Regions from separate parts of the Homo sapiens genome. Here region 2 is linked to region 1. Evidence: fine-mapped expression QTL. Tissue or cell type: prefrontal cortex. Region 1 holds a variant in brackets; the other region holds the start of a gene. All regions are shown on one strand. Distances are from middle to middle.

The links. PIP is the estimated chance that this variant, and not a neighbour inherited with it, causes the effect.
Region 2: A2ML1 starts here. The variant in region 1 is fine-mapped to the expression of A2ML1 in prefrontal cortex (BrainSeq, PIP 0.95).

Annotation. Positions count from the first base shown.
Region 1 is chr12:8,841,745-8,844,428 of GRCh38, reverse strand. A2ML1 (alpha-2-macroglobulin like 1) reads right to left here. Exons shown (of 36, transcript NM_144670.6): 12 at 1,068-1,295. Among named protein-coding and RNA genes, the nearest start is that of A2ML1-AS1, 12 kb to the right of the region's middle. The variant CTT/T (reference allele first, on the strand shown) is at 1,099.
Region 2 is chr12:8,821,378-8,824,061 of GRCh38, reverse strand. A2ML1 (alpha-2-macroglobulin like 1) reads right to left here and starts at 1,441. Exons shown (of 36, transcript NM_144670.6): 1 at 1,349-1,441; 2 at 697-880; 3 at 180-342. The coding sequence starts at 1,410. The region is part of intron 1 of A2ML1-AS1 (A2ML1 antisense RNA 1); the gene reads left to right.

The DNA.
Region 1 (2,684 bases):
AATGGAACACAGAATGAAATGTATCCTGGCTGGGCTCGGTGGCTCATGCCTGCAGTCCCAGCACTTTGGGAGGCCAAGGTGGGCAGATCACCTGAGGTCAGGAGTTCAAGACCAGCCTGGCCAACATGGCGAAACCCTGTCTCATATAAATTAAAAAAAAAAAAAAAGTATCCTGAGTCCCATCCCTCCCCACTCTCCCTCCCAACCACCCAGCTGGTTTTGTTTTTGTTTTTGTTTTTTTTGGTCCTGGCCAGCACTATTTTCTCAGGTAATTCCTCATTTTATTTTCCCACACAATTTTCCTGTGTTCCTGCTCAGAATCTCTTTCTTCCCCCAATGTTTTCCATCTCTTACACCTATACTGGGCCATGCAGTATCTCATAGCCACATAGGAATATTGAATACTTGAGGCCGGGCGCGGTGGCTCATGCCTGTAATCCCAGCACTCTGGGAGACTGAGGCAGGTGGATCACGAGGTCAGGAGATCGAGACCATCCTAGTTAACATGGTGAAACCCCGTCTCTACTAAAAATACAAAAAAAATTAGCTGGGCGTGGTGGCGGGCGCCTGTAGTCCCAGCTACTTGGGAGGCTGAGACAGGAGAATGGCGTGAACCTGGGAGGTGGAGCTTGCAGTGAGCCAAGAACACACCACTGCACTCCAGCCTGGGCAACTGAGCGAGACTGTGTCTCAAAAAAAAAAAAAAAGAAAAAAAAAGGAATATTGAATACTTGAAATGTGCTCAGTCCAAACTGAGATACGCTTTAAGTGTAAAATACATACTGAGTTTCAAAGACACCGTTGAAACAAGAATGTAAAATATCTATTAAAACTTTTTATATGGCTTTCGTGTTAAAATGTTAATATTTTGGATATAATGGGTTAAATAAAAAATACATTTAAAATTAATGTCAACTGTTCTTTTACTTTTTTAGTGTGGCTTTAAAATTGTTTTTAATTAGATGTGCATCTGCAATTCAGATAGCCTAGGTGCACCCTCTGGCTGACTCTTCTCATTCTCTTTCCTTCCCAGCATACTCTCACCCGTCCCCGTTTCCCGGTCTCACATAGTAGGAGAAGCTGATCTCTTGGTCAGGG[CTT/T]GCATCGGCCGGGTCGATGTAATAATCCACCAGCACTTCCTGGGGCTGGCCACATTTCAAGGGGCCGTTTAGCCGGTGGATGCCAAGGAAGCTGCGGGTTGTGCTGTAGAAGGGTCGCAGGTGCAGGTAGGCATTTTGGTAGTAACGTGGCACTTGTTCCGGATTATATACTAAGTCTTCCATTTGAAACTTTCCCTGAGAATAAAAGAGAGAGAGAGAATTTTAGCATGTGCTCCAACCATGGAAACCCCACGGACTTGTTACGGTTTTCAAATAGAGCTCTTTCTCTCAAATCTTCACTGCCTGAGAATGGCATGTGGGTATTTCATTAGCGGTCCAGCCAAGGATGGATAAAGAATCCATAAACGTAGCTGTGTACAGCAATATTTTGGTATGTAGGAGAGCGACAGAAGGGCTGAATTATAGTTACTAAATGAGAGGAAATTGTGGGTGATGTATCTTCACAGATATTCCTGGGATAGATGAACGTGACTTAGATTATATAGAAATCAAAGATTATATTTCAGGGATAAGAAAACTAGGCACAGAAGACACTAAGATTGAAAAATAATTATTTCTGAGTAACTGAGTCATGCCTAGAGTAAAGAAATAGTCAAATTAGCCACAAGGCAAGTAGTATGTGTTTGCTTAAGTCCTGAGGTTGAACGATCTCATTAATGGCTCCAATTCCTCACACGCACCCCGCCCCCTCCGAGATCAGCATCCTTGAGCATGTGGTCTTCCAGTACCCTCCTAGTCTGTGCCCACTGTTCGATTTGTTGGGAAAGGGGTGTTAACATATGCAACAGGGGCCGGGCGCGGTGGCTCACGCCTGTAATCCCAGCACTTTGGGAGGCCAAGGCGGGCGGATCACGAGGTCAGGAGATCGAGACCATCCTGGCTAACACAGTGAAACCCCATCTCTACTAAAAAATACAAAAAATTAGCCGGGCGTGGTGGCAGGCGCCTGTAGTCCCAGCTACTCGGGGAGGCTGAGGCAGGAGAATGGCGTGAACCGGGGAGGCGGAGCTTGCAGTGAGCCGAGATCACGCCACTGCACTCCAGCCTGGGTGACAGAGTGAGACTCTGTCTCAAAAAAAAAAAAAAGAAAAAAACATATGCAATATACAGAGGTTTGGAAAAGCCCTGAACATCAGCTTTTGCACTTGCACCTCATCACTGCCATAAGAATATACCTGGGCTAGCTGGCTCCTGCATGAGAGGCATGCGGAGCAGCAGCTTATGGCCAGCCGATCTGCAGACAGTTCTGGAAATCGAAATCAGCAGAGCTGCCTGACTGAATGCCCCAGATGCACAAGCAGTGAATGCTTTCTGCTGCACGATACTGAAGTTTGTAGCTGTTTGATAAGAAGCATTGTTGTGGCAGTTGATAATTGATACTTATAAGTTATCTAGAATCTAGAGTTCTCTTGTTTGCTGTTTTTATTAAGTAATGAGGGGATGGGAAGGGGAAAGAGAAAGAAAAAGACTCTGAGTCACCTATTCCTCCCTGCTCTAACTTCATATATAGATAGGATCAGATAGAGATGGGGGTAAGTTAAAAGATGTATTAGTAGAAATAGT
Region 2 (2,684 bases), 20 kb after region 1:
CTCTTGCTTGTGTAGCGCAGCATGTATTCAACACTTGCACTACTTAATCCCCCCAGATTTTCCTCTCCTCTGCACTCCTTTTTTTCCAAAGCCTACTGTCAAACCACAAATCCCCTCTTTACCCCTGTGCACAGCGGTTTCCCCAGGTTTTAGTCGAACCCCAAATATGTGACTCTTACCTTGCTGCCCTGGGGTGTAGAGAGGTTTGTCAGTCTGTACAAAGGTGCCGTTCCCCTGCCTCTGAATTAGAACCTTTTTCTTCTCCTCAAAGCTGATGTTATTTCCAACTCCCGACACCCGGATTGTGGCCACTTCTTCTGTGCCACCAGCAGGAGGTGGTACCTGACCAAGAAAGGGGACTTCTGGGGAGGGGTAAGGGATTGGGGGAACAGAATCAACTGGTCTCAACCCAACAGTGAGTTAAAGGAAAGAGCTGAGTTAGATGGGGGTAGCAAGGATAGAGACATAAAACAAATTACCACGAGGAAGAATTAAGGTCAGGAACTAAAGGGAGAAATCCTAGGTCGAGGAAACCGTGGGTGAGTTATAGCCGGGGATTGAGGTTAAGTTGAGAAAAAATAGGTTTAGAGGCCGTGGCAAAAGATAACAGAAATTATACTTAAAGTAGATTATAGTGAGCCTAGGGAGGAGAATAGGCAAGTAAGGGATTCGAGTGAGGGCTGAGTCTGTGCTTACAAGAAAGGAGATACAATGTAAGTGCCTCTTCTTCAGTCCAGAGTATTCTAGCAACTTCTGGGTCTTGTCCTTGGTCTCCAGAGTAACCGTGAATTTAACATCACTGTACCCAGGGCTCAGGTCCAAACAAACCTTCTGAACGGAGGGGAAATTTAGCCGGGCTGGTAATGTCACCAGGTAGTTTCTATTAAAGGAGCAGAAGGATTTCAGGGCAATAATGATTCATTCACTCGAAAAATCCAGCACTCTCCTAAGCGCTCAGCAAGTAGCAGTGAATTAGACAGACCAAGCCCCTGCCTTCCTTATGCACCTCATTTTCTACAAGAAGCAGAGGGGCAACGACTCAGTGCACAGTCTTCAACTTCCGCCATCAGGAGGCCCTCACCGAGCACACATGCCTAGAGCACCAAGGAGGAAATTAGGCCTATTTCAGAAAACAGGGCACATTTTAATATTTATCTTTTTTAAAGCTTCCTCTTCATGCGTCAGCCTCCCTCTCTGGGTAAAGGATCAGTGGAACCAAAGAAGAGAAAAAAGGAGGAGGAAATTAAGATAAACCAAAGTTGATCTCCCCATCTCCATATAAATGTTTGAGAAAGTTAGGCGAAGAAGCCGCTGCCCTAATAAACCAATTCTGACACCAAGCACTCACGGAAGTTCTTCTGCAATGGCTGGTGATAGGGCCAACATTCCTAGAAGGAGCTGAGCCCACATCTTTGTGGGTGAGACAGATTTTTCCAGGGTCAGGGGCAGAGATCGCTCCGCGTAGCTTTATATACTAATTCCAGGTAGGGTGTGCAGTGATGACTGATGCTATAGTCAGTCACCTCCTGGCACCTGGAACACAGGAGGACTGTGTTCCTCCTTCTGTAACCACCAGGTTAGGTGGTGGACCAGGGTAGGGCCACTATTCACTTCTTTAAAGTTGTTTCTGCCTGGAACATCCATACTGGTTCAGCCAGTTTTGGGGGAAAACCAGAGCTGAGTATTCATAATGGTAAAGCTCTCAGAACATATTTTGAACTCCTCCCTTTTTTTCTGGTCTCATTCCAATTCCTGTTCTCATTTAATGTCCTTATTTTCTTTTATTATTCAATTAAGGTGTAGTTGGGAACACGGGTATGAGAACAGTTTCAATAGAAAAGCAGTAAACTTGGCCGGTCACAGTGGCTCACGCCTGTAATCCCAGCACTTTGGGGGGTTGAGGTGGGCAGATCACCAGGTCAGGAGTTCAAGACCAGCCTGGCCAACATAGTGAAACCCTGTCTCTACTAAAAATACAAAGAAAAAAAAATCAGCTGGGCATAGTGGTGGGTGCCTATAGTCCCAGCTACTTGGGAGGCTGAGGCAGGAGAATCGCTTGAACCCGGGAGGTGGAGGTTGCAGTGAGCCGAGATCATGCCACTTTACTCCAGCGTGGGTGACACAACGAGACTCTGTCTCAAAAAAAAAAAAAATTAATACTACTCAGTATTGTTGTGACTGTATGGAAATAGGGACACACACAGTCCTAGAGAAAATAGAATGTGGATAACTTTCTCATGGCAATTTTGTAATACACACCAAAGCCTTTGAGATTTGCATATTCTTTCACTCAGCAACTCCTACTCTGGAAATGTTTCTTAATGAGGAAAAAAAGGACAGCATGCATGTATGCACAAGTGTAACACTGAGTTTTTTCACACTGTTCTTTCTTTTTTTTCTTTTCTTTATTTTTTATTTTTTTGAAGTAGAGTCTCACTTTATCACCCAGGCTGGAGTGCAGTGGCACAATCTCAGCCCACTGCAGCTTTGACCTCCTGGGCTCAAGCGATCCTCCCACCTCCACCTCCTGAGTAGCTGGGACCACAGGTAGGCACCAACACTCCTGGCTAATTGTTTTGTATTTTTAATAGAGACAGGGTTTCACCATGTTGCCCAGGCTAGTCTCGAACTCCTGAGCTCCAGGGACCACCTCAGCCTCCCAAAGTGCTGGGATTACAGGTATG